4 linked regions of the Homo sapiens genome follow. The protein of the gene in region 2 purifies or fractionates together with the protein of the main gene of each other region. This does not show direct contact. Each region holds a gene or a part of one and is shown on either strand. Other genes may lie near its edges. The genes, in order: VANGL2, SV2C, ABHD17B and UFD1.

What was found.
Region 1: the proteins of SV2C (region 2) and VANGL2 purify together in Homo sapiens (affinity purification with mass spectrometry; 2 studies listed by BioGRID and IntAct, with this or other methods). This does not show direct contact.
Region 3: the proteins of SV2C (region 2) and ABHD17B purify together in Homo sapiens (affinity purification with mass spectrometry; 2 studies listed by BioGRID and IntAct, with this or other methods). This does not show direct contact.
Region 4: the proteins of SV2C (region 2) and UFD1 purify together in Homo sapiens (affinity purification with mass spectrometry; 2 studies listed by BioGRID and IntAct, with this or other methods). This does not show direct contact.

Annotation. Positions count from the first base shown.
Region 1 is NC_000001.11:160,403,543-160,410,566, forward strand, and holds part of VANGL2 (vang-like protein 2), read left to right. Parts: intron 1-361; exon of another isoform or gene 362-850; intron 851-2,585; exon of another isoform or gene 2,586-2,783; intron 2,784-4,261; exon of another isoform or gene 4,262-4,346; intron 4,347-4,460; exon of another isoform or gene 4,461-4,713; intron 4,714-4,913; exon of another isoform or gene 4,914-5,092; intron 5,093-7,024. UniProt on the Homo sapiens protein: Involved in the control of early morphogenesis and patterning of both axial midline structures and the development of neural plate. Plays a role in the regulation of planar cell polarity, particularly in the orientation of stereociliary bundles in the cochlea.
Region 2 is NC_000005.10:76,078,913-76,086,387, reverse strand, and holds the start of SV2C (synaptic vesicle glycoprotein 2C), read right to left. Parts: upstream 3,006-7,475; 5' UTR 2,876-3,005; intron 2,173-2,875; exon of another isoform or gene 2,075-2,172; intron 1-2,074. UniProt on the Homo sapiens protein: Plays a role in the control of regulated secretion in neural and endocrine cells, enhancing selectively low-frequency neurotransmission.
Region 3 is NC_000009.12:71,873,179-71,880,202, forward strand, and holds part of ABHD17B (alpha/beta hydrolase domain-containing protein 17B), read right to left. Parts: intron 1,906-7,024; 5' UTR 1,903-1,905; coding exon 1,436-1,902; intron 1-1,435. UniProt on the Homo sapiens protein: Hydrolyzes fatty acids from S-acylated cysteine residues in proteins. Has depalmitoylating activity towards DLG4/PSD95. Has depalmitoylating activity towards GAP43. Has depalmitoylating activity towards MAP6. Has depalmitoylating activity towards NRAS.
Region 4 is NC_000022.11:19,462,175-19,469,198, reverse strand, and holds part of UFD1 (ubiquitin recognition factor in ER-associated degradation protein 1), read left to right. Parts: intron 1-1,195; coding exon 1,196-1,326; intron 1,327-3,924; coding exon 3,925-3,997; intron 3,998-7,024. UniProt on the Homo sapiens protein: Essential component of the ubiquitin-dependent proteolytic pathway which degrades ubiquitin fusion proteins.

The sequences.
Region 1 (7,024 bases), on a different chromosome or scaffold from region 2:
CAGGACAGTTTTTTATCTGCTCATCTGGTTTCCAGGTCCTTCCAGTTAATGGGGAGGGAACTTGACTAACAGAAGCTTTGGCAGGGAAAAGGAAGAGATCTGATCCCCTCTGAGTTTTAGGGAACTCCAGTCTTCTCCTTCCCTCAAGTGTTCATCACATTGTGAGGCCAGAGAAAGGAGTCAGAGTTGGTTGGAATTAGTACTTAACAGTGGTGTGATCTGGGCAAGTAATAAACCCCATTCCCCAGCCTCTTAGGTGTCTTAAGGCACATCCTCCAAGCCTAGACTGAGCCCTTCCACAAGGAATCCCTGGTCCCCCACCAAGTGGCTTTCTTCCCTGGTTTGCTTTTAAATTCTGGCTTTGCCACTGTCTAATTCCGTGACATCAGACAAAACTGGTAACTTTTTGAAGCCTCACCTGTAAAATGGAATTAATAATAGGCCCTACTTCTTGGGGTTATGAGGATTAAATGAAATAATAGAGAAAGCACGTTGCACAGTTCCTGGCACATAGTAAATGTTAGCTGGATGGTTCGGATTCTGAGGGATAATCATCATTAAGGGAGAGAGGTCGGAGTCGGGATAGGAGAACTAGGCTTTGGTTCTGATCTTCCTTTGGCCGACCACATTAGGCACTCTCTCCTATCTGCCAGGCACAGTGTGAAGCACAGGGGATGGAGGGGCAAATAAGATGTTTTCCCAGGGGAGACATGTGAAAACATGTTGATTCACTGCAGCCCAGTGAGTGCTGTGTGGAGGTGTGTTCAGGAGGCCACTGGAGCATAGAGGAAGAGTGCTTGGCCCTGGGGTGAGGTGCCAGGGAAGGTTCCTGCAGGAGATGCCCTGTTAGCTGGATTTTAAAAAAATTAAGGTGAAATTCACATAATAGGAAATAAACCATTTTAAAGTGAACAGTGGCATTTAGTACATTCACAGTGCTGTGCAACAACCACCTCTGTCTAGTCCCCAAACATTTGCACCATCCCGAAACAAAACCCATACCCATTACACAATTGTCGCCATTTCCCCTTACCCCAGCCCCTGGCAACCACCAATTTGCATCCTGTCTCTATGGATGTACCTATTCTGGATATTTCATACAAATGGAATGATAGAATGCATGACCTTTTGAATCTGGCTTCCTTCGCTTAACATAATGTTTTCCAGGTTAATCCACACGGTAGCATGTAGCATGTATTAGTACTTCATTCCCTTTTATAGCTGAATATTATTCCCTTGTGTGGACAGACTTTACCTGGTTAAAGGATGAGTTAGGCCAACAGGAAGGGTCTTAGGATGGCACTCCTGGTGGAGGCTGAGCGTGAGCAAGAAGGCACACAGGGTATTTGGTAGTCCTGTACCTTGCAGTATGAAGTGGGGATTTGGCCTCAGTTTCTCTGTCTATAAAACAAAGTTAATCATCCCTTTCCTGCTTGTGCTATGGGCTTGGTAGAGTTGGAGGTATTAGGGGAGAAGAGAGGCTAGGGTATTATTGCCTCTTCTCAGGGTCTGGGCTGGGGATGGGACTTTTAAAACTTGCTCTTTCCTCCTCTTTCCTGGGCAGCTCACTCCTGTATGCATCAACCCTCATCCTTGTGGGGAGCCATCTCCCTGTTCACTTGACATCAGCTTCCCCTCTCTCTGAATTGACCTGAAATTTTCCCTTTTACCTTCCACAGGTGGGTAACCCTGTGCATGATGAGATTTTGGCAGCAGAGGTGAAGGAAAGGCCTGGGACTAAGTCCTACTCACATTCTACCCTACGGCGGCCCTCCCCTTCTTTATCCTGTCTCTTGGTGATGTGGCTTGGGCAGCCCTCTCTCACCTTCTCTGTTGTAGTCTGGATAGAACTGTGGTGGGCCAGGGAGAATGTTTGCATTCCTTGTCTCTACCCTGCTTGGTACAGAGTAGGAGGCAGAGGCCCTTTATGGTGGGGCCCTTTGGAAATGAGGTTTTGCTGTGCTTTGTCGGATGCCCCTGGCAAGATTGGTAATTATAGACATAACAGCTGGGAACTGGTTTGAGAGAAGCAGGCTTGGAATCAGCAGACCTGAGGATATCCTGGTAATCAGGGTGGGGCAGGGAGAGGGGAGAGTGGGATGAAGCTGGGGGCTGGGTAGGGTGGGAGGCTTGGGGCCTCCTTCCCCTGCCGCTCCACACACAGCTGGGCTTAGAGCCTAGAGGAGAGTGGGAGGTGATTGGAACCCAGGTCTGCTTTACTGTAAGTGAGGAAGGAGGAAGGAGAGGAGGAAAGGTGGGGGATCCAAGGGCCTCTGAAGAAAGAAGCAGAGAGGAGGAAGAGGCATGTTGGTTGCTCTCTCAGGCAGTACCTGGATGTGGTCTAATTTAGAACAGGGACAACCCTGCACCTAGAGGTGGTTCCATCTTATTTTGGGGTGTTTCTCCTTACAGTGAGGTTATGGGAGCAGGAAGTGGAGGGGATTCGCTGTGGACCCACTAAAGGAGAAAAGGTGGGAACTAACATTTTTTTAAGCATCTATTGTGTGCCAGAATCTGTAATATTCTGCATACATTATTTTGCTGAAAACTCTTAACCTTCTGAAGTAGGCACTATTATTGCCATTTTATAGATAAGGAAACTGAAGTTTGGAAAAGGGGAGCGACTCACCTGAGATTACATAGCTCGTAAAAGGCTGTGCCAGGTCTGACTTCAGTGCTCTTCCTTTTCCCAAAGTCTCTTCACCTTCCCCTACTGTCATTCCAGTTCGGTCTGATTGCTCATTATTGCCTTTAATCTTGCACTTGAGTAATTCCCCTGTTTTCTGAAAAGCAAACATGAGTCCAGTGTCAGCCTGAGGAGTAGAGAAGCCTACCCTTGAGGGTGGGAGTCAGAGAACGATCTCATCTCCAGGAGGAGCACCTTGGTGTCATAAGCCTGGGGCGGGGCCAGCATCTGGGCAGAAACCTCTCCTGGGGTGGGTCTCTTTCTCCTTGCTGGGCCATGATTTTGGATGGGGGTTGGGGTAAAGGAGTGACTGTAGGCTCCGGCCACCATGGCCCGTGGGGTCTTGTTTGTGAATGGGAGGAGCCTGGTCCTTATTGTCTGTAGGGTTTTCTCACAGCCCCTAACAATGTCCTTCAGACTCCTGTTTTCACCAGAGTGTTCTTGGCTCCCTCAGCCTGGTCAGAGAGAGAGGGTGTGTTTGTTTGTGGGTCTAGGGAGGGGGTTCTGGTTTTTTTTTTTTTGAAACCGTTTCGCTCGTTGACTAGGCTGGAGTGCAATGGCGCGATCTTGGCTCACTACAACCTCTGCCTCCCTGGTTCGAGTGATTCTCCTGCCTCAGCCTCCCGAATAGCTGGGATTACAGGCATGCACCACCATGCCTGGCTAATTTTGCATTTTTTGGAGAGGCGGGGTTTCACCATGTTGGTCAGGCTGGTCTGGAACTCCTGACCTCAGGTGATCTACCTGCCTCGGCCTCCCTAAGTGCTGGGATCACAGGCGTGAGCCACCACGCCCGGCCCAGGGGGTCTGGTTTTTTAGGGTAAGTAGGGTTTAGATAGGAACAGGTGCTGAGCCCGAAGTGTGAATGCAGTCACTTAAAAAACAACAGACTGTGAACAAAAACATGCATTTTGACACCTGCTTTACTTCAGGAATGGAGGTGGCAGATATAAGGGATGGGAGAGTTGAGAATTTTCAGCAAAGAGTGAGAATCTCAGGTAGGGGGGTGGTCGCGATGGTGGAGGCCGGCTGGTACTTGGGCCTTTCAGCTGGATCTGGTTTTCTAGATAAGAACTGGCCAAGTTGCCAGATCCAAGGCATTGGGCTGAGGCAACAGGAGGTTCTCAGGATGGGGATACCCAGCCCTGCCACCCTCATCCCCAGTCACACTGCATCTCACACCCTGAGGCCCACTCTACCACTTTCCTACAATCCAGCCTTTGCTGACAGTGCCCCCATATGTTCTTCCCTCACACTCCATCCTCACAGCTCAACTCTCCCCATCCACAGCAAGCCCGAGGTTGGCTAACTTCCCCTTCCCAACTAGCTGCTTTTCACATCTTTGCACCCCAGGGCAGGGGCTGGGTGAGCAGGCTTTGAAGGTCTTTTGGGGCCAGGGACAGTTGGGGCCTACCTCGAGCAGCAGGCTAGGAAGAGGGGGGCATTTGTTTTTGGAGTGTACAGGACACTCACTGACTTACGGGTCAGCACAACTCACCCACCTCCCATTGTCCACCCTCTCCCTGAAGACACCTCAAGCTGCCTGCTTTCCTTCTTGGTTCTTCCACAGCTCACCTGGTGGGCAGGTACGGGCCAGTTCTCTGCCTAGGCCAAGGGAGGAAGCAGCTCAAAGCCTGGTGGTGGAAATTGTGGGGCCTGCCTGTTGGTAAAAATTAAATGGAGAATCCAGAAGCCCTGGTTGCCTTCCCACCAGCTTAGTGTCCCGTCTTCCCGCCGGCCCCCACCTGGGACAGATGCCAGGGGCATTACTCACCTTTTCTCCTGCAGCCTTTCCACCCCCAGTGTTCTCTTCAAGACGGACTAGGAATGGGTCTGGGGAAGGCTAGGGAATGGGGTGCTATGGGACATGAATGTGCACACGTGTCTGCTTTTGTGTGCTGTGTTGGGGGGCAGGTACCTTCTGGGAGCTGGGATGGGGGTGGGGGTGCCAGAGAGACAGCGGAGCAGGTCTCTACAGAACCTGCCTAGCCAGGGTGGGTGGAGCTGGGTGGGGCAGGCAGGAGTGATTCCAGGTTTCAGAGGGGGAACAGAGTGTGGGTGTGTATGCGTATGGGTGGGTATTTTGGTGTGTTTGCGGATTTAGAGGTCCTCGGCCTCACCCCCAGCCTTAGACTGAGGGAAATTCAGGACGTAGGTGGAGAGGGGCTTGGCTCTGGCTTCCCCAACTGCTTTTGAGGTAGAATGCAAGCTCAGGTATCCTGGCCAGGAGCCCAGTCTGTGGGCCCTTCCCCTGCGGTGCACCCTGCACTGGGGTCTGCTGGTGAGAAGCTGCTCTGGAAGCCTAGATGCCTGGATGACACAAGCATGGCCAGGATCCCACCCCTCCTCTGCCACTCAGCCCAGTGAGGAGAAGGATCCTGCCCCCACCCTGGGGCTATGAGGATGGTGAGCTCATCTCTGGGGCTGTCCTGGGAGAATGCCTGGTTAACAGGGCGGGGGTGGGGCACCTGGTGCCAGCTCCTGGGCTCCCTGCTCTGCCCTTCCCACCCCTCAGCCCACCAAGATACAGCTGTTCTCTCTGGCCTCCTGGGCAGCACTGTCACCCAAGGACAGCCTTTTTCAGGGTTTAGGAATGAGGGTCAGGGCAAAATCTTCATCCTATTTTTGGTCCAGGGCTGGAGCTGGTCCTTGCCCACTCTGTACCTTAGTCTTTTCGGTGATAGCAAAAGCCCAGCCTCTCTGGATGGGTGGCTTGCCCATAGCCCAAGGCTGGATGGGGATGAAGGAACATCAAGGTTCTTAGTTGTGGTAGATGGATGGGTGCAGGAACCACCCCTTTTGGGGATAGAGGCTCTTTGGTTCTGGCTGTCTTAGCTGAGGCCTGTCTAGTCTCTGTCTCTTTGTCCCTGGTGAGAAGAGGGGGCAGGACGGAGTCAGCAAATCCTCTCCTGTCGTGGCCCTCTTGCAGTTGTGGCTACTCAAGGAACCAGTGTCCAGAGCAGTCTCATGGAGAAACCTGGTCTCACTCCAAGAGGAGCACTCCTCAAAGTCAGTGTTACTACGATTTTCCAACAATTAGAGGAGGCCAGAAATGGGCTGCCGTAGAAGTAGTGGCCATGGGCTAGTCACCTTCTCTCTCTGGGTCCCACTTTTTTATTTGTAAAATTTGAGGTTGTCCCTCTAAGGCCCCTTTCAGCTTGGTGCTGGGAACTGCTGAGAAGAGGGTGGTTCAGCCAGCTGTGTCCTCCTGAAGGGAAAAGGGAAAGGGAAAGGGAAAGGGGAAGGGGTGTCAGGGGAATGATATGGGCATAGTCAGAGGTTCAGGTACCTTCCTTCCGTCTGTGGAAGCTGTGTTGGATGTCTGCATTTTCAACCCACACCCATCAACTTCAGCCCCCCACCAGGGCCTGACAGCGCTGCCTGGGTTGAGCACATCTGTGAAACTCAGGGGAGGTGTGTGACAAGGAGGAAAACCAAGCAAGGCTCTGAAGTGCGACAGCTGTGTCTCGAGTCTCTGCTCTGCCTTGCACTGGCCTTAGGCCTTGGTGAGGTACTCTGACTGTACTCTGAGCTAGCACGGAGAGCTAGCTCCTGGGATCCTGGGCTGGGAGGTTGGACCCTGGGCTTAGTTCTTGCCACCTCCATGGCTGAAGGTGGGCTTCCAGCACTTTGAGTGGAACTTATATTGATATCCTTGGACCTTGGCACTATGGATGGTGATGATTAGGGAGCCAGGCAGCTAGGGGGTGCCCACATGCATACCCCTGCCCACGGGCTGCAGTGGGAAAGGGGTGCAAGGCATATGCAGGAAGACCCAGGCTCCTGAGTAGGAATCGGAGACCTTTAGTGGGCAGGGGCCCACAGACGACTCTTCAGGCAGGTTCTGAAGCAGTAATCACACCCATTTCCCTGTGTTCAGGCAGAACCACCCTTCCCTAGTCCCTGACTACGGAGAGAAAAATGGTCCTATCAGAGATCTCTGCCCCTGTCTGAGGAGAACTTGAGGCTTCTTGTCCTCTTTCCCATCGTCTTCCCGTCTGGCTGGAAGTCTTTTAAAAATCAAACCCAAGCACCCTTCTCAGCTGCTTCCAGCCCTGTCCTCGGTGGAGATGAGGAACACTAGGTGCCCTTTTTAGGTACATGTTTTGCTCTGTCCCTGCCCCCCTTTTCTTCCGTGGCCTACTCACCCTGGTTTCCACAGCTCTTTCTCCCAGCCCCGTCTGCATCTATGCTCTGTCTCATTACCTCACCCCAGGCCTAAAGTAGCCGGGACTGGGCTGCGGGGTGGGCCCGGGCTAGAGCAGTGGCAGGAGGTGGCGTCTGGAGCTGCCTGCGTCTGGTCATCGGCCCCCAGCACGCGCCACACATGGGGGTGCT
Region 2 (7,475 bases):
TAAGGAGCCATTTTGACAAATCACATGCTTTTATTCATACAATATGTCATCAAGTTTGCTTAAGAATAAGAGATAACACTCCTAATTATAGGAAATGGGTTTTCTGGTACTTGTCGTCACGTGATATATTGCACATTATGATGCCTTTGCCGTAATCTCCTGGAGACTGGGAACTGGATCCTATTATTTGAAGCATTTCCACACTTAAGGAATATGATAGGGTTAATAATGAATAGGAGTTTTACTACAAGCTGTTAGGCCAGTCTGCTGCTCAGATCAGAGAAGCTACTTTCACTGTCATTGGGTCATGAAAAATAAAGCTGATTTCTCCACTACATGAACAAAACACTCAGATGTGATCCAGAGCTTCTTTTTTTCCTTCTCCAGACAGTCAGTAGCTAATGGCATTGGATTACATATTAGACTGTTAGGAAAAGTCTGCTGTCTGCATTTGCTCACATTGAGGGCCAAATTTCATTAAAAAAACAATGCTGGGAAAAGTCTCTAGAATTTTTTAAAAGAAAATTCTGTGTGTGTGTGTGTGTGTGTGTGTGTGTGTGTAGGGGCTTTGTTTGCTAATATTTTCCATTCATGGAAAATTTGTATTTCCAAAGCCAAAGCTCTCTGAGATTATCTCTTTTGTCTTCAAAACAACCCTGTAAGGTACATAAGAGCTAGTATAAGCTATTTTTCACAATTCTCAGAGGTGGAAGATGAACCCAAGAGGGTGAGTAACCTGCCCAAGGTGACATAACACAATATTTGGGGAAATGGTGACTAGCATCTGTGTCTCTGGGTTCCTTGATAATTGCTTTTCTTCCTCCCTCCCTTCCTTTCTTTCTTTTTTCCCAACCCCGTCCCCTTTCATTCATTTTGCCTACATACTGCAGATTTGGGCTCCTTCAGTAAAGCCAGTAGAAAAACTTTGTCACTGGGTTTCCAGAAAGTGGTCTTTAAAAAAAAGAATAAAATGGATCGTGGATTTGATTTATTATTTTCCACCAGAGAATGCGTTATCAGTAGTGTTTTTTAACGCGTATTTTTATGCCATGAAAGAGGAATGCGGCATATTGTTTTGTAAGACATTCTTAAACCTCACTTAGAGGCCAGGCCTCCTGCCAAAAATCCTGCAGAATGGTGGCGCAACGGGTTGGCACTACAGAACCTCACGAACCTCAACACCTAGGCGTTCACATGAAAACTTCCCACGAGCACGAGGCCTTTCGGAACTTGCCATGGAAAATGAGTGAACGCCTGAGAGATTAATGCCACATTCTTCAGAATTAAGGATAAGAATTAAACGGAAGCTACCGCGCTAGCAGTCAGCTAAGTATGAAGGGATTAGGTTCAGCGGGAGAGGAGACCATCACGGCATCCCGGTCTCATCTCCTTAAGGCTCTCATGAGCCTTAAAAGACGCCTCATCTCCTCGGTCCCCCGGGGAGCGCCCGGTAGCTGCGGCTCCTTCCCGGCACTGCGGCGCACTGCGGAGCCGCCTGCCCGCCAGCCCAGGCCGTGCGGGGCTTTCCTCGCCGCCCCGCGCCGCCGCAGTCCTCCCGCCCCCCTCTGCCCCGCCGGGTCGCCGCTCTCCGCGCCAGGCGCGCCGCGGGGCATCCATCAACCCAGAGCTTTTGACGCACACACGCGCGCTCCCAGACGGAGACTCCGTCGCCTGCCCCCGCCCGCCACCCCCGCCCGCCCCTCGCGGGTCTGCATTTGCATCACTCGCACACGTAGAAGGTGACGCGAGCGCCCCCAGCTCAGGCCGTCCAGGCGGCACCTCTAGCCCCCGTGGCTCAGCCCCTCCCCCCGCCCCCGCGCGCCGCCTAAGGTCCCCGCACGCCCACAGATCTGCTCCCGATTGTTCATCTGCCGTGGGGTGCTGGCTGCCCCAAGCCAAGTTCATCCCCGTATTCCGCAGTCCCCGTGGGCCCAGCCCGGGGCGCTCCCCGCGACGCTCTGGAGAAAAGTCTTCCCAGTTCTAGAACCCAGGCGGAAGGGGAAAAGCCCACTAAGAGAAAGGGTCAGAGGGTCGGCTGATGGCTTTTGCTGCCCTCATCGCCATCTAAGATTACCTCGGTAGCTTATTTACTGCGATTGGTCCCTCTCCCCTCTGAGCTTCACAGCCTCGGGTCTGCTTCGCCTGGCCTGGCGCACAGCAGGCGCCCAAAAGGTTTTTGCTGAATGAAGGCGTTGTAACGTAGGAAGTGCAGGCGCTGACAAAGAGCCTCAGCCCCGCGGGCTCCCCTGCTCTCCAGCCCTCTCTTGCTCTCTCTTAGACGCCAGACAGGCGCTTCGGGAATGTATGTGGGAGAGTTTGAAAATTCATGGTGTTTCTTTCAGGCTCTCTCAGCACTTACTGCGGCTACCTCTGCTCTCCCGCCACCTGCACGTCTGCAGAGGGATCCCCGCCGAAAAGTTGAGCCTAAGGCAGCTATGAAGGTATAGGTCCAGGTACCCAGCCCGGGGCTCTAGGCTGCTAGATTTGAATCTGCCTATCCCTGCCGGTCAAACCACACAAGCAAAAAAGAGCGTGGCGGTCGCTGCAGATGCGGCCCCTGCATCCCCGCTGCTGCCCACCCACCTCCTCTGGGAATCCCAGATAAAGTGCGACCCAGTCCCCAGACCTACCCTAGCGAACCCTGGGGTCACTGCATCTATTTTACCCCTACTTTCCTGGTCCCTCTCCAACAAAGGCGCCTACAAAGCAGCGGGCACCTGCAGCCGCTTCCCCGGGGGCAGGCGGGGCAAAGTTGCGCTTCCGAAAGGCTGCAAAAACTTCCCCAGGCTGCAGCGCCCGGCCACCAGTCGGGAAGAGAAATCCAGCAGCGGGGGAAAGTCTCCCCGCGGATGCCCGCTTCACCTCCCCCACTCACCGCTCCAGCCGTCGGACACCCTTGCCCTGAGTGGTGTCAGCACTGCAGCCGCCTCAGTGCGGGCGCCGCTCCGGCTCGCTTCCCCGGGCTGCCTCCGTCTGCCACTCTCGCCTGCAGCGCGCGGAGTGGTGACTCCTCTGAGCGTGTCAGCGGCGAGAGGAGGGGCGGGAAAGTGGCTCCCGGCTTGCACGCTGCGGTCCTCCTCCTCTCCTCCGCCTGCCTCCTCCCCCTGGTGCTGCAGTGCCGGGCGGCGGCGTGGCGAGAGTACCAGCGGTGCGCAGGGAGTCACGGCGCGCGGGGGAGGCGGGACCCGCGCGCCACTCGCGGTGCTCCGGCAAGTCGCGGTGCTGAGGCGCTGCTGCGGTGTGGGACTGGGGCAGGGGGCGGGGAAGGAGAGCCACCTCCAAGTGGTAGGTACTTCTGGAGAAGTCAGGGCTCTGAGTTTGTAGCAGGTGAAGGAGAGGGGCGGCAGTCCTTAATTAGTCACCAACTGTGACTGTGCGTTGCGCACTTGGCGGCGCCCCGGGTCAGGTCCAGCGTGAGACGCGAGGGAGTTCTGACTGCTGGACTCTGTTAGCACCGGACAAAAAGAGGGTTTGTATTCTATTTCCGGGCCTGGGACTGACTTGTTCACTTCGACTTGGCTTCCAGGGAGCAACCAGGCAGAGCTAGGTTGCCTACTTCCCCCAGCCCCCACCCCGACGCTGGAAGACAAGTCCAGAGGAAACTTGGGCACAGCAAGAGCAAACAGAAGAAAACTTCGCTGGGTTAAGTCTACTGTCTCCCCAATGCTACATAGGGCCAGACAGCTGGGCTCACAGGCAGATATTGAAAGTGGCCCCTTAGAGGGGAAACAACCAAATATGAGGGGGGGGGGGTGGAGAGAGAGATAGAGAGAGAGAGAGGAGGAGGAGGAAGAAAGAAAGAAAGAAAGAAAAAGAGAAAGAAAGAAAGGAGGAGGAGGGAGAAAGAGAGAGGAGAGAAGAGAGAGAGAGAGGGAGAGAGAGAGAGAATTTTGCTTGTGTTGTTAGAAACAAACATTTCTCCCCTTGGCGTGCAGGAGAGAGAATTTTGCTTGTGTTGTCAGAAACAAACATTTCTCCCCTTGGCGTGCAGGAGACCCCAACTCGAGCTTCACTGTTCCAAAGCGGTGGGCCAGGCGGCTGGAGAGAAACTCGCTCCCGTGAGGCCACACCCAGGCCTGGCGCACCCACCCCGCGGCAGCAGTGGAGGGCGTCGCCCTCCCGGGCCTTCCGACGCAGACCCTGCCATCCGGATGCTGCGGGAAGTAGGGCATCCTCACGTCCCTGACTCCTCCGGCTCCGCGCGCTCACGGAACCCAAGTGGAGTGGGAAGCGGTCACACAGGCGTGTGCCGTCCCCGAAATCGTTGCTCCTGTGGTGGTGACCCAAAGCGAGACAAAGCGCCGCGCCAATACGGGCTGCAGTGATTGGAACTCAAACACACACATCTCTCCGCGAATGTGTTCCATCCGTGTAAATATGCCTGGGTGATTGAATGGATGGCTGAATGAACGCTGTGTGGATAGAAATATAAATGTTACATGTATAATACAGGCGCCGGGGAAGGAGAGCTGTCAGGCACCCCCAGGCTGGAGCCTCCTGCCCAGAGGAGCCGGTGGAGACAGGCGGTTCGCCCAGGGCGGTGTTGTTAGCTTGGGCTTTCCAGTTCGATTTGTGCCACTATGCAGGATACTGTGAAGAGAAGAAAATGGAGACAACTCTTGGCCTCTCATTTTCCCTCCTCTCTGGTTCAGACACTCTGGCACTAAAAGTTATGATTCTCATGTGCTGTTGAACCTACACTTCCTTGCTGGTCTGTCTTGTTCCGGTGAGAGGCTTTGCAGTCTGTGACCATGGTGCTATGAGATGGTCAGGCAATATGAAAATTAGTGAACGTGCTCATTTTCATTTCGTGGATTCTTCTTAGTAAAATAATTATTTAAATAGTTAAATAATTTAAATAGTTAAATAATTTAAATAATTATTTAGGCTAAAATTAATGTGCTGCTACTATGACAAGGAAGTGCCTATGAATCCAGCATTGGAAATACAATTGTGAAATTAAAAAATAAATCCTATCTGGATTCCCCGCATGTTATTTATAAAAATTTGAGCTTCCAACTGCAAAATGTGCTGGCAATTCACTGAGTTCTCAAACGGTTACCTTTTTGAGAACCTCCCCTAAACTGTTGCAGAATAATGGATTGTTTCTCCAAGTGATGGAAGTTCAGAAAACCATGAAACAAACTTTAAACGTGATCAACGTTCTTTATGCTATGCTGTATCTTCCTTAAATTATTCTCCTATCTTGTCCGTGGAAGATATTTTTTTAAAGTGGGTTGATTTTTCTACTTCTGGATTTTCGTGTCTTGATGCATTTGAAGGTAACAGCTCCTTTAGGAAAATCCCTGATTGTGATTTTGCCTGAAACATCCCATTTAAGACCAGGTTGCACTGGAAAAGGCTATTTTAACGTTGTGTCTTTGGAGGACATGAAACATTGTGTCATGATGATGTTGTGCCCTGGTTCCTGGACTTGCCCTCTAAAGCAGTTCTGGTTCTAGGGTCCTGCCTGGCACACACCTTGGCCCCAGGCCCCTTGGATCCAGCACTCAGACTAGTTTTATTCATGCCTTCATTATAATGAAATGTTTTCTCTCTTCTGAAAACACTTGTCTTGTAGAAGCGGATGGAGTGAAAAGGGGTATACCCTCCATCCCCACAGAATCCCAGTACTCTAAAGTCATTGCTCTCCTACACCTCAGGACTTTTGTTCCTCAATGCAGGGTGTCGTCTTGTGATGCTAAAAAACAAGCTGTGAAAGACACCTAATGAGCATGAGAGGTCTGTTTTCGCATCAGCAAAGTGGTTTTCATAAAAATAATTCACACTAAGTACAGATGCTATAGTGGTTATATTTTATAATATACACAAGAAGCACAGTGCCTAGTACACAATGGGTATAGAATAAATGTCAGTTGCTCTTCCTCTTTTAGTAGTCAGGGCAAGGTTTTCCAAAGCCTGCGCTTTGGAGAACTGGTTTTGTAAGATGCTCTGGAAAGTCAGAGTTACACCTGGCTTCCACAGCAGATGTCTGAAGACAGCCCCATACTCTTGGACCAAGTCCACACAGCTCTCCACTTCTCCTCACTATCATCAGGAGTCTATAGCAAAGTGCAGACACCTACTCTTCTTACCCCAACACTCAGCTTCCACAACACTCAAAACTATTTTTTGTCTCTTTTGTAATTTTAATCGAAGTATTACTATTCATTTTTTTTAAACTCTGTCTTATAAGCACCACATTTTAATATCTAAGTCAATATTGGGTGAAAGAAACACCACCAAGAACTTCCCTCCAGAACAAAACAATGATGTTCATTCCTCCAAACATCCAAATTGAAAGTCTATCACAACCAAAACAAAAAAACAAAGCCCACGGAGAAATAAAAAGTAACAAAAATCACATTCTAGGGTGTTAGTGCATTTGGCAGTCTTTGCTGTGCTGTTGAACCATCCTTCAGCTGGCTTTCAAAAAAAAAAACACCCTAAGCTCATCAAAATATACATTTGCCATTTGCTTTTTAAAATTAAAAATAATAATTAAAAAGAAAACTTCAAGGAATTCACAATCAATTGCCTGACTTGTTTCAATGTCATGTACAGCATATGGAAGTGAAAAAGGCCATTTGCAGCACCTGTGATTAAGGGATATTCATCTTCAGGGTTTAGCTTTCTTCCAGACAGCGTAAAATACCCACAATTCGAAGTTTGAAGGGACATAGACGATCTCCTTTGAGAATTCCACAAGGCAATACAGGCACCCAAGCTGTTCTTCATAGAGTGGCAGGGCTTCTGTCAGATTGACACAGTTTGCCTGTGTAAAATATTTCCCATCCTGTTTCAATACATTCATTCATGGGTCAAAAATCAGTCTGAGAAACTCCCACATGGAATCTTGTTCCAGAGATGTGGAGATTGGAACAGCTGTCAAATCGTTAGTCACACAATCCAATTCTCTCCCTTCTTTGGTGTGCCTCTTCAGTATTGGAATGCAGTCTTCTATCAGAGCCTGATAGCAGCCTCCTTTAAGATTGTCTACAACATCACCACATGTTTTTTGCATATATTTCTTACATCCATCAATCACCATTTGGTCAATCTCTACCATAGTGACCATCTTTGATTTTAGTTTGACTATTTCTCATAATATGCCCCCATCTCAGCCTCTGAGAAGCAGTACCTCTTTGCCAGTGAAATCTGCTTTGCTGCTGCCCGTGATGGCCCAGGTATATGCCAAATCACTCTGCCGAATCAACATCCCTACTAAGGATGAGAATATTTCCAAATTGCTTCTAGTGTAGAATTGTAATGTTCCAATAAGGTGAATCTTCATTGTACACCACTTCATCTATGTCATATTCAACCAGGCGCCCATCGGTGGTGGACCAATGTCTGTTGATGGCCCCTCTTCAAACTACAGGTGGTAATCGCTTCACCAGCCCAGTACTGTCTTGACTCAATTCTTTCATTCTTTTTTCTACATTGTTTGAAAGGCTGTCGATCTCTTCTTTGCC
Region 3 (7,024 bases), on a different chromosome or scaffold from region 2:
AAGAATAGCCTATATTAAGGTATCTGTTTATTGTACACTAACCTGACTAATAATACACTGAAGTCTACCAAATTGTGATTTTTTTTTCAAGAAAAATGTTTAGGTATCTTGGTGACTAGAAAAGATTAATGCAATTTCTAGTTCCCCAAAATGTATGCTGCTATAATCAAAGAATAACTGACATAGTAAGAAAATTTTATTAAACAATTTATCATAACATTAAAACTTCTTTTTTTTTAAACAGAGTCTTACTCTGTCACTTGGGCTTGAGTGCAGTGGTGTGATCTCAGCTCACTGCAACCTCCGCCTCCCAGGTTCAAGTGATTCTCCTGCCTCAGCTTCCCGAATACCTGGGATTACAGGCACCCGCCACTGTGCCCGGCTAATTTTCGTATTTTTAGTAGAGACGGGGTTTCACCATCTTGGCCAGGCTGGTCTCGAATACCTGACCTCGTGATCTACCTGCCTTAGCCTCCCAAAGTGCTGTGATTACAGGCATGAGCCACTGCGCCCAGACATTTTTTTTTTGTATTTTTAGTAGAGATGGGGTTTCACCATGTTGGCCAGACTGGTCTCGAACTCCTGACCTTGTGATTCGCCTGCCTCAGCCTCCCAAAGTGCTAGGACTACAGGCGTGAGCCACCGCACCCAGCCTAAAAAATTTTTTTAAACTTGATATAATCTCTCCCAATTTTAGGAACACAGAATATAAAGTAAAATCTCAGTTTTACAGAATGAATACTTGAAAAATAATTCCAATAAGGTATCTTTAAGTTGTACTTCCCAAGAAGTAATCACATAAAATAATGCAAATCTTGGCTTAAGATTTTAATAGAAAGCAATCCAGCCTCATACTGTTAATGACAGATCAAGTGAATAATTAGCTATGTCAGTATTTTCTCTCATTTCCTTGAAAGGTTGCAGCTTTGAATAAACATTTTTTATATCACACTCCAATAAGAAAGCTTACAAAAACCAAACATTTGTCACTGGATTTAATTTTTTTTTTTTTTTAACTTTTTAAGAGATGAGGTCTGACGCTGTCACTCAGGCTGGAGTGCAGTGGCACGATCATAGCTCACTGCAGCCTCAAACTCCTGGCCTCAAGTGATTCCCCTGACTTTGTCTCCTAAGTAACTAGGACTATAGGCATGCACCATGGACTTCCAGCTAAGAATTTAAGTTAAAAAAAACATACATATATACGTGTATTAATGTAGACAAACAAACCTGAAACTGTCTTTAAAAACTTTGTTTTGCTATTATGTGAAATTTAAAATTGCTGTCTAAAATATTTATTCACAGGTATATAATAGTAAATATAACCTCTATATAGCAGTTATGTATAATAAAAACAGCTTTTATTCTATTCTTACACAAGATATTTTTAGCTAACCACCACGAGTATGAAAAATAAATTCCAACCACAATTTACCTTGTCCTAAGAGCAAGCCAAGCAGCTTCAATGTCTGCATAGAGGTTCTTCTCTGTGGGTTTCCCGGAACTGGCACCATATCCAGAATAATCATATGAGAATATATTACAATTAATCCGTGATCCTAGTCCTATGTAAAAGCTGCTCATTTGACCAAGATCAACAGCATTTCCATGTGAGAAGAGTAAAGTGTATTTCGCATTGGGTGAACAACGTACAAACATACAAGCAATTCTGTTGCCTTTACTGGTTCTAGTCATGAAACACTCAATAGCATCTTTTTCTCTAGAAGAATACTGCCAGTCTGCTCGTTCAGACAGATGTAAAGTCCAACGGCTTCCGCTTTCATCACACATCAGTGTGTAAGTTGGATCAGGTGGCAAAAACGCTAATTTTGAAGCAATCTTCCCTGGACAAGGTGGACAGCAGAAGAGGCAACATAGCTCACTAAATGAAAGATTATTCATGCTCTGAAAAAGAAAAGGAGATAGCAAATATTTTAATAACTGAATGTAGACTCATACAATAAAAAGTTAAAACACAGACATGGGTAAATTTTATTGGTGGTTAATGACTATTACTATTTTAGGTATGATTCCAAACAGATTTTTGGCTTCTTTTTTTTTTTTGAGACGGAGTTTCACTCTTGTTGCCCAGGCTGGAGTGCAATGGCGCAATCTCAGCTCATCATAACCTACGCCTCCCGGGTTCAAGTGGTTCTCCTGCCTCAGCCTCCTAAGTAGCTGGGATTACAGGCATGCGCCACCACACCCGGTTAATTTTGTATTTTTAGTAGAGATGGGGTTTCTCCATGTTGATCAGATTGGTCTCGAACTCCTGACCTCAGGTGATTCACCCACCTCGGCCTCCCAAAGTGCTGGGATTACAAGGAGTAAGCCACCACGCCCGGCCTTTGGCTTCTTTCTAGAAGTACTTTAAATCCTGGGGTGAGGCAAATATTCCTGACCAGCAGACAGACTCAAATCCTATATGACAGGTTTCAAATAGCAGTGATTATTATCTCATTTAACATAAATGTCAAAAATGATAAAGGTAATATTTGCCATTTCTTTACAAATAACCTGAAGGTATGAAATATCTTTAGTGTAGTCTGTAATTTCTATGTAACTCAGCAAAAGTTCTTAGAACCTCATGGAGAAGCTAGGAATTTAGCATAAAGTGAATACATACTAATAGCATTTATGAAGCTATTTGTCAGGCATTGTGCCAAGTGCTCTATGTGTGTTACTTGGTTTAATTCTCAGAACAACTGTGTAAGTTGTTGTGAGAAAGGAAACTTGCACAAGATGAGGCAGTGGTGGAGCCAGGATTTGACTCCAGGCTGTCACTACACTATGTTACTGGGCTACACTGCCTCACAGATTCAGAACACGCTCAGAAGACTATCACTTTGGTCACAGTGCCAGTGGCCCAAATAACCTATAGAACATTAAAGTGTATGTATGTATGCATGCATGTATGTATGTATGTAATTACTGCCCAAACTAAAAAGGCTATAATATAAAGTTTATTGTGGAAAAAAGGTAAAATCTACTAAAGGTAAACTTTTCTAAATGTTTGGAAGAGAAAGAGTACAAGGTTTAAAGTTAGGAAGCTGGGGTAAAATCCTAACTCTACCACTTACCGTTTGCCAGCTGTATGTCCTTGGGCAAACTATCTCTTTGACTCTCATTTTCTTCATAAGTAAACAAGGCCAATACCTACACTGAAGGACCTGGTTGTGAATATCAAATGTTGGTGTAGTGAAGGCCCATCATACAACATACGGTGAGTGATGGCCATATCATTGTCACACTTTAACTTAGGGACAAAAATAAAGTAATACTTGTTAGTTCTATCAGTATTTCCTTCTATCTTGTCCTTTTTCAAATTCCTGTCTCTTTTTAGCAAAATTAGGCCATTGCTTAGTTCCAGAGAAAAGGCATTTAAAACCAACACCTTACAGGTTTGGTGGCATCCAATTTTCTCCAAAAAGAAAAAAAAAAAATCTAAATATAAGAATAGGGGGAAAAAAGTACCCTATTACACCAAAAATGGGAAGAAAACAACTCAACAGAGTGACTAAATGGTTGAGAATATCTGGGGGAAAAAATGCCCTTTTCACTCAATACAGAATCAAATATATCCTATAATGCTCAGTATAAATGTGTTTATAAGAAGCAGCAGAAAAAAGCACAGGAAGAGAGGAACAAGGGTAGGTATAACATAAAAGACTTCAAAAGGTGAGGGAAGGGCAGAAAAACATCTTGGATATTAGGAAATGCTTTAATTGCTTCCTACCTTTATTTCTTTTTAGGCTTCAAAATACAGCCTGAATAAGTTAATGGCTTACTCTGGTTGGAACAAGAAATAGGACAGAAATAACAACTAAGTGTCATCTGCTAACTTTAACTGAGGGCTTCCTGAAGTGTTGTGCTGAGAATGATTCTAAGGCATACACAGGGCTTAGCCAGCAAAAGATGTGATAAATTAGTGATGTTTACTATAGACTCTGGCTACAAATTTACTATCCTGGTCAGGAGGATAAAGTGTCTGTTGAAGAAGATGAAAGGGAAGGAACTCAAAGGATCTGTTCCAGAGGAGGAAATGACCTGCAGAAAGATGATGAGGTACAAGGTATAATATCAGTGCTGTCTGTTTAATATCTGTCTATGGTTATTTGTCAACCCTGATTACCTCATATACCATTGACTGCTGAGCCACAATAGCCTTTTAAAAAGCTTAATAAGTAAATGGTACGTATCTAGACTATAGTCCTATAATTTATCTCTTAGCCAGAAACACTTTTGTTGTTGTTTTTCGAGACGAAGTCTCACTCTATCGCCCAGGCTGGAGTGCAGTGGTGCGATCTTGGCTCACTGCAACCTCCGCCTCCCACATTCAAGTGATTCTCCTGCCTCAGCCTCCCCAGTAGCTGGGATTACAGGCACACACCACCATGCCCAGCTAATTTTTGTATTTTTAGTAGAGATGGGGTTTCATGATGTTGGCCAGGCTAGTCTCGAACTCCTGACCTCAAATGATCTGCCTGCCTTGGCCTCCCAAACTGCTGGGATTACAGGCATGAGCCACCGCACCCAGCAGAAAAACTTTCATACACTATAATAAACTACTTTTGAAATAAAGCTGGCTGGTTGAACATATATAATGCTGTGAAGAAGTTTCTGGGGATGAACACCAAAGGAGAGAAGCAGAAAGGAGAAAAACTGCAGTGCCAGGGTCTAGTTTAATGACAACTTCACTTCCTTAATGCTGACAGAATGACTCCCCTCTTCCACTGCCCAAAAGCCAGATAACTGGGGCTTATTTAATGACAACAACTTGCAAATGATCACTTTCCTAATAAGAGGCCTGGTATAGGGCAGCAACACAGACCTACTTTCAAAAGTTAATTGAATACTTTTTAAGTCTGAAAAATTTCACAAAAACTATAAACAAAACAAATAAATCTAGGTTTTAGTATAGTGTGAGCAAGTTACTGAAGAAAAACATTTTATTCTGTAAAAAAAAAAAAAAATCACTGAAATAGCTTGTTAAACTTAGATAATTTCAAGTCCAACTTGTTCTTATAAAACTCATGCCAGACGCAGTGGATTGCTTGAGCAGTTAACAGTTGAAAAACACATCAGTGAGCTAAAAGATCAGGTTGAGTAATTTGCAAATATGGAATTTTTTTGTGGGAATTAAGAGACAGAAAACAACAAAATTTAATAGATAGAAATAGAAGTAGAAATATCACTATCCATACTATAGAAGTTCCAGGAGAAAATAAAGATAAGACTATTTAAGAATTTCTCAGAATTAAAGGGGGAAAAAAAGTCAGATTGAAACACCTCAAAGTGTACCAAAAAACAACAAACTACTTAAAAATGAACAAGATCAGATGAACATATGACTTTCTAATATAAACACTGGAAGCCAAAAGACAATGGAGAGATAATTTTAAGCTAAAGATGAAATCAAACTTTTAACCTAGAATTGTACATAGAACAAAAATACAGTTTTAATATAAGGATAAAGGTATCTGGGCTGGGTGTGGTGGCTCACTCCTGTAATCCCAGCACTTTGGGAGGCCAAGATGGGAGGACCACTTAAGCAACATAGGAAAACATTGTCTCTATCAAAAAAAACAAAGAGAGAGAGAGATCTGCAGGCCCACAAAAACTCGTAAGACTTAACCAAATCAAGTCTCTCTTTGAAAAACTCCAGCAAGGAGGGAAGGAGATAAATCCAAGGGAAGGCCAGGCACAGTGGCTCACACCTATAATCCCAACACTTTGGGAGGCCGAGGTAGGAGGATTGCTTGAGCCCAGGAATTGAAAACCAGCCTGAGCACCATGGCAAAACTCCATCTCTATAAAAAATACAAAAATTAGCTGGGCATGGTAGTGTGTGCCTGTAATCTCAGCCACTGGCGTGGCTGGAGTGGGAGGACTGCTGGAGCATGGGAGGTCAAGGCTACAGCGAGCTGTGATAGAGCCACTACACTCCAGCCTGGGCTACAGAGTGAGAGCCTGTCTCAACAATAACAACAAAACAAACAAAAACCCCCCAAATCCCAAGGGACTTCTATGAGATATCTGAGATATGAGAAATAAAGGAGAATAGTTAATACAATGTTTTTTGTACAAGTGAGCAATGGGAGCAAGGAGGGTGAAGACAACAAAGTATATCCCTAAAAATCCAGAACAAAAACTTTGGTGAATATGAATACGAAGAGGATTGACAAAAGAGAGACTACTTAAGAGGTAAAAATGTGCTGGGGTACCTGACTTGTTGAGGATGCTACTGATACTGATAAGCTTAAGACATAGAAGAAAAGCCTGAATATAAGCATGACTCTTAATAAGTCAGATATAATCATCAGAAAAATGATAGTGCAGGGCACATCTAAAGGAGTTACAATTATCCATTACAAAAGTCTAGCTTTAAATATTAGTGTCCAACTTAAGAAGAGAGTAAACAAAAAGAAAACAAGAAAAAGAAAATTAAGAGCAGATATCAACAAAACAAAGAACAAAAAGCAATGGAGAACCAACAGCTGATTTCAGAAAAGGCTTCCACTACTACTAATAGCAAATAGCATTAACTGAACACTTACAAAGTGTCAGGCACTATTCTAAACACTTTTCACATATTAACTAATCCTTTCAACAATCCTCTGCTTTAGGGACTATTATTACACCCATTTTGCAATTGAGAAAACAGAGGCATAGAATAGTTACATAAGTTGCCTAATGTCACAAATCTGATCAATGGAACTGATACATGACAGAATGACTCTGTAACCCAAACTCATAACTACTGTTTTGTGGAAAGGGTACTCAGACAAGACTGATCACAAGAAAGAGATAAGCAAAATAAACGAAATAATGTACTAAAGGAAAAAGGACTTTGAGCTACAGACATAGTTTCTAGAAATGAAAGAATATCATGTGTCAATAAATAACCTAGACAAAACTCACGCACTTCTTGAGTAATATAAAAGGACAAAATTGGCACAAAGGCTAGAATATGCAAATAACCATCAGAACTTCAAAGGGAAATCAAAGACCACCTTCACTTAAA
Region 4 (7,024 bases), on a different chromosome or scaffold from region 2:
TCACTCCTGGGGATGCCAGACCCCCGTTACCAAAGCCAGTCACCTCTGCATCCTTCTGTGCCTGCCTGTGGCATTTGGTAGAGTGACCACCCTCTATTTCTGCCCTTACTAGCCTGACAAGCAGCTGTCAGCGTGAGTGCATGGGGTCCTCTGCAAGCCTATCCATAGGGCCCACCACTCAGGCTTCACTCATGGCCTAGGCACGGCTTCCCAGGCACAGCCTCGGCCTCAGCATGCCTCTCCCTCCTCATGAGCTCCCTCTCATTTGTGACACAGCCCTCAGCCCCCTTTTCCCTTGGCTGTTAAAGTCACCTTCTCACTGCCACTCCCGATGAAACATTCTTGAAGGGATGTGATACCTGGGATTTGCTTCAGGGCATCTAATGTGGCTTGGGACTGGGTGTGAGGTAGTGCTGATCGATGGACTGAGCCACGACGTGAGCACTGTCCAACTGTCAGGGCTCGGTGCGTGGGAGCTCTCTTCTACGGCTCTTTCTACTGATGTATATGTCTGACACCCCTTTTAAGACGGTTTCAAATAAGACAAGCAAAATTTCATTGCAAGAGACATAGAGCTTCTGACCTGAGTCTGGACTCCCTGCACACCCAGTACTCATGGGCATTGTTTATCTCTTTCCGTCTCACTTCTCAGCCGTCGTCTACCTGGCTGGGTTGTTTAATAGAGACATGTGGAGGCTTTGTCAGATTTTTATAACCTCCTTAGCAGAGACCTCTGGGGTCTGTCACCATCTTGCAGCCTCAGCTGTGGTGGGCCATTCCATTGCCAGGTCAGCCTTGCCTTGTGCTGCTTTTGTCCTACCTCAGGTGCAGCCCTACTTGACGCAGGGCCTTATAATTTGCTTGTGGGACAGCTTGGAAGTACAGTGAGTGACTATTCCAGGAAAATGCTCTGCCCCTGGGAAGCCTGGAGCTAGTGAGTAATCCGGGCAGCCCTGCAGAGATGCGTTCACACTGTGAGCTATACAGCTTCAGTAGCACCCCTTTATTGGCCTTCTTCCTTCCACATCACTTGATTTTTCCCTCCTTCCTGACATAGTATCACGAATTACTTATCTTGGCTCAGGTTCCTCTTCCAAGGACCCAAGTAAGACGGGCCTGCCCAGTGTATAGGGAGCAGTGGTTGTGGAGGCTGCTTCATCTCTAGGAGTCTCATGTAGCCTCTTCTTCCTTTCAGATGATGCAGAACTTACTCTTGGAAGAAGGCGGCCTGGTCCAGGTGGAGAGCGTCAACCTTCAAGTGGCCACCTACTCCAAATTCCAACCTCAGAGCCCTGACTTCCTGGACATCACCAACCCCAAAGCCGTGTATCTTTTTCAAATAAGCGGAGTTCTTCTAGACAAAGGAGAGTGTGCTGGCGGTTGTTAAACATCATGTACTGTATTGAATCTGTGCCTGCTTTGGGGATCACACATTTGTGATTCAAGTTGTGATTTGAGAATAATGGGGTTCAGCTAGCACATCTGCGTGGCCCTGGCCAAGTGCACTGGGTGCTGTCTGGGCCACCTCTGTCACTTTCCAGACACTTCATGGAGACCACAATGAAGCCCTTCTTTCAGTTGGTCTGTGTCACCTGGCACAAAGCCAGGATGCACAGTATGTCCAGTGGAAGGAGGGAGCAGCTTATCTGCCTTCAGCTCCAGCCCCTTCTGTGGCTCCCTAGTACCTCCGCCCAGCTGTGCACTGGCCCGTCAACCTCACTGCATGCCAGCCTGAGAGCTGATTCACTCCAGGCCAATAGGTAGCAATGACTGCAGTTTCTATGTCACCAAGCAGAAAGCAAAGGTATCAGGTTCTAGTGGATTCTTTTTGTTCACCTCTGAACTTAAGCCAGGTGTATGTGTTGACAGCATCAGGAAGTAGGCAGTGCAGGTACGGGACGGTGCTGTGTGCACCAATCAAGATCTCTAGCTCCATGGCCCTGATTTTTCCTGTTACGATCATGGCATAAGAGTGGCCACTCCATTCTACTTCTTTTTTTTTATTTTTTTTTAATGCATACTTGAAAAAAAAAACAAACAGTCAAACAACACAGACAGATAGGAAGTTAAGAAAAGCTGCCTCCTTTCCCAGTAGCGCTCTCTCCGCATGTTTTCTTAGGAGCAAGGCACTGCTGGGTGTGCTCTGGATGCATATGGGCCATGTATATTCTTTGCTGCCTATGTTCTGGACACGATGGCCTTGTTGAGCCTCCTGTCCCACAGGCAGGGGGATGTCCTATGGGAAGAGCTAGTTAACTTGTCCTTCAGAGCTCTGACCTAGACATGCTTGTTTGGCTGTCAGTGACCAGGAATGGGCCATGCCCATTTTCTCAGGGTTTTTACATGTGTTGCAATGCAGACTTTTTTTTGAGACGGAGTCTCACTCTGCTGCTCAGGTTGGAGTGCAGTGGCACGGTCTCAGCTCACTGCAAACTCTGCCTCCCAGATTCAAGTGATTCTCCTGCCTCAGCCTCCTGAGTAGCTGGGATTACAGGTGTGCACCACCACACCCGGCTAATTTTTGTATTTTTAGTAGAGACGGAGTTTCACCATGTTGCCTAAGCTGGTCTCGAACTCCTGACCTCAGGTGCTCCACCTGCCTCAGCCTCCCAAAGTGCTGGGATTACGTGCATGAGCCACCGCGCCCTGCCCCAATGCAGACTTATCAGGTTGATCTCAGATGCTGTTTTGTCAGCACAATTAACTTGTTAGTGTGTGGAGAAAGGGCGTCACTTCCATCAGTTGAGAGCCTGGTGTTTTCTGGTCTGGCTGAGGTCTGGATGAAAGCAGTCTTGGCACCGAGCAGAGAAAGTGGGAAGCTGGTGCTGCAGCAGGTGCCAGAGTACGCAGAGGCCATATGGGGAGCCCGCCCTGCCTGCAGAGGCCTCGTGTTCTCAGCCTGAGGGCTCTGGCTCTGCTCCTCCAGCTGCTGCAGTGGAAGTCAGAGAAGATGCCCTGGCAGGGTCACTAGAGGAGTGGAGGGAAGGGCACTTCGTACCGTGGCACTTCATATTTGGGAGCAAAGAAAGCATCCACCACATAAGGCGCTTTTCACAAAGTTGCTCTGGTTCTGGAAAGCTGTTTGACCAAGCGAGGTGAACCTAGATAGCCTCACCCTTTCACCCTCAAGTTGGACTCACAGTGGCAGGCTCTGGAGCCACATTTCATGTGACCTTTTTATGTAAAGTCCTTCAGCAAATTGATGAGGAAGACATGGCAAAATATTCCACATGAATAGACATTTCCTTGTGTGGGCATTTGGGTTCTACAGTTTTACTGTTATAAAAAGTATTTGCTGGTTTCTTTATTTTAATTTCTATTAACTAAAGTTATCAGCTCAAAAGATAGAAACAACAGAAGTATAAATGAAAGCATCTTTGATTTTGAGGAACTTTTGAGAGGACCTATCTGACTCATTAAATCTTTTTTGTTCTTTAGTACTCCCACAGGATTTTTTAAAATCCCATGGTATAATTTGTATACAATAAAATGCACACAGTTCAGCCAGTTTGAAAATGTATACACCCATGTAATCAGAACATTTCCATGTCCCCAAAAGGTCCTTTCCTGTCAGTCCCCACCTGATCCCCTGGCCCAGAAACCTCTCAGCTACCTCCCATCCTCATAGATCTGTCTTTCTCAGGGTTCCATGTGGATGGAATCTCACTGCCCTTTTGTGGTTGGTTATTTCCCCTTCCCCCAGCTTGGCATTTGTTACCCCAGCTTGGCATTTCATCCATATTATTGCATATTAGGAGTTCCATCCTTCTTTATTGCCAAGTAGTACTTTATTGTATTAAAAGCTTCGTGTTTCAAGTACCATCATGGTACAGTCTCTACCTACCAGTAATCATCTAACATGGAAACTTGTTTCAGATTAAGGTATCCATCTTGCCATGTTGCCTTGACAGAATGTGTCTGCAGATTAGAAAACGCACTTAGGAACTTTGCCTGTCTGACCACCGGGGATGTGATTGCCATCAACTATAATGAAAAGGTGAGCCCAGTTCATGCAGGTCATTCCTGACAAGAGCCACCTGCAGTGTCCATTCTAATGTTTGAATGGGGCTTCTTTTTAAGCAGCGTATGCCTGGATCTTATCACCTAATTACTGCCTACTGTTTGGTTATTAAGTTTTCCCGGGTTCATATTTAGAGCCCTAATTCATTTGGTAACTCTGTTTTGAGGATAGATTGCATTTACAGGGGAACATTGATAGACTTATTAGTCATACCTCTGTGTACCTTGGTGGCAAGGCTGCTGGTTCTGTCTTGGTTTGAAAGGTCCCCACTGCACCTCTAATCTGAGCTAAGCCCTTTGCAGGGCTGTGGAGACACAATAACAACCCTGCTGGGTCCTTGTCCTTGGGATACCTGCCCCACAGAAGCTGACAGGCCCTTCAGTGGGGCCAAGTGCTGTGTGGCATCTGAGAAGCAAAGCCTGGCTCTGCCTTAGGGCAACACCTCCTAGGCTCACCTCTCCTCCTGGGAGCCCACATCCTCCTCCACCTCCTGTTTTCTTCAGCTTCCGTTTTCACTTAGCAGCTTCTCTAGGCTTGACCTTTCTGACACAAGTCTCTCAGGTCTGAATGCCTCTGTTTTCATCCCTGATTTTATGCTGTTTAGGTGTCTGGATCTAGACAATTTAACTGTAAAGTGAAATGACAGGACTTAGTCCAAAATTCAAGAAAGCATTCACTTTCCTATTACCTATGGGAATATGCCTGCAGGAGGATGTAATAGTTGGCAATCCTGCCATCAGGCTGTCCCACCACAGGCATGGAGCACAGTAATATGGGTGCCCCTGTTCACTGTGACTGTTGACAATTGACCCTCCCACAGAGCTGTTGCCAGGGCTAGCCTTAGTGTTCGGGAGTGACCACAGCCTGGCTTGGCTGGGCTTTCCCTGAAGCTAGCACTTAGCTCCTTCACAGCACTCTCTGGTCCCTTCGGGGACTGGGCCGTCACAGCTGTGTCACAGCTGCCTGTGGTTTAGCCAGTTACTCCCTTGGTGTCAGTGCAGGGATCCAGCTTATTCTCTGGCAGTTTCCTCATATTTGAGGCATCTGACCTTATTTTTCAGTTCCTTGGGTTTCGAATCACACTTTCTTTTTTCCTTTTAATAAACTAAGAAATAATCTTGTTCCCTTTAGCTTTGTGGAGAACATTTTAGGTATCGTTTACCTTAACTGAATACTCTAAGCTTTTATAATTAATTACAGGCAGTTTAATGTTATTGTTTTTAATGTTAAGGTAGTAATACTACATATAACTCCTAAACTGATGATAAAGGATAGTACTGATACTTTGCACTCTAAGGGAGGGTACATTATATAAGAGTGTATGTAAAATTGAAACACAGGTTTGAACTTCCACTTTTAGAAGTAGGGAAAACTAGATCCTCTAATGGGCCCTTCTGATTAATGTACTGTTGTGCTTATAGAGAATTTTAAACACTCTAAGCTGGGTTGCCCTGAGGGCAGATGGCCATATCAGTGCTCTAGTGGGAGATCTGAGTCAGAGATCAGGATTGAACGGGAACCCTTAAAAGCAGTAAAATATACACAGAGGTGGGTGTTGTCATTGTCTCAGGAGAAATAAACAGATCCTCTCTGGAAAAAGCACTCCAGTTTAGTTACGTCTTTGGGATTGCTGTCAATTGAACAAGCAAAGAACACATAATTAAACTACACCAAAGCAGAGACAATAAAAATTAGATCCCTAAGGAAATCAGCATTAGAATTTCTAGATACAAATGTAAAATAATTAGATATAAAATGTTCAAAGATATTTTTTAAAATGGAATTATAATAGCGAGCAACAAAAGGCTATCAAAAATAACCAGAAAGATTTGAAAAACAATGTTAAACAACAGCTATAAAAGAGTTAATGAAAGATGAATCTGAAGAAATAACAGAATTTCACACAGAGGAGCAAGGGGATGGAACATATGAGAGCTTGAGATGTTGAAGACACTGAGAAAGTCAAACATGCCCATTGCAATCCCAGTAGGAAAGAATGGAGGAATTGCAATAATCTGAAGAGATGGTAACTGAAATTGATTTAGAATTGGTGGTCAGCCCATCATGACAGGAAATTTATAATGTATAACAAACAGAATAAGCTACAGGTAGAAAATACCAAATACAGAGAGGTAAGCAGGGAGAAAACACAGTACCTTCAGAAGAACAGCAAGTAGCAGGTCTTTGAATAGCAACAGTTACAGCCAGTATCAAGTAACTATCATCAAAACCTTCCTTAAAGAATAAGGGCAAAGTGAAAATATTTTCAGATGAACCAAATCTGAGAGAGGTTATTTACCAATGGAATTTTAAAAGCATGTACTTTAGGAATAAGCATTATCCTAGAAGGAAAGCAAGAAGGAATAGGGAATAAATAAATTGGCAAATATGAATCCAGGGTAAATGTTGCCATATAAAGCAGTAATAATGTTTAATGTATGAAGCTTAAAAAATGACATCTAAAATGTTGGAAAAGAGTAAGTCTTTAGACTTACTCTCTTTTTTTTTGAGAGAGTCTCTCTTTGTCTCACCCTGGCTGGAGTGCAGTGGCGCGATCTTGGCTCACTGCAGCTACCACCTCCTGGGTTCGAGCAATTCTCCTGTCTCATCTCAGCCACCTGAGTAGCTGGGACTACAGGCATGTGCCACCACTTGCGGCTACTTTTGTATTTTTAGTAGAGACGAGGTTTCACCATGTTGGCCAGGCTGGTCTCGAACTCCTGACCTCAGGTGAGCCATCAGCCTCAGCCTCCCAAAGTGCTGGGATTATAGATGTGAGCCACCGCGCCTGGCCTAGACTTACTCTCTTGAGAGAGTTGTTTAGAATTAAAGTGTTCTCTGTTTACAATTCAATAAAGTTAATAAAAAAGATAGCTGAAGCTGGGTGTGGTAGCTCACACCTGTAATCCCAGCAATTTGGGAGGCTGAGGTGGGTGGATCACTTAAGTCCAGGAGTTTGAGACCAGACTGGGCAACATGGCAAAACCCCATCTCGACAAAAAA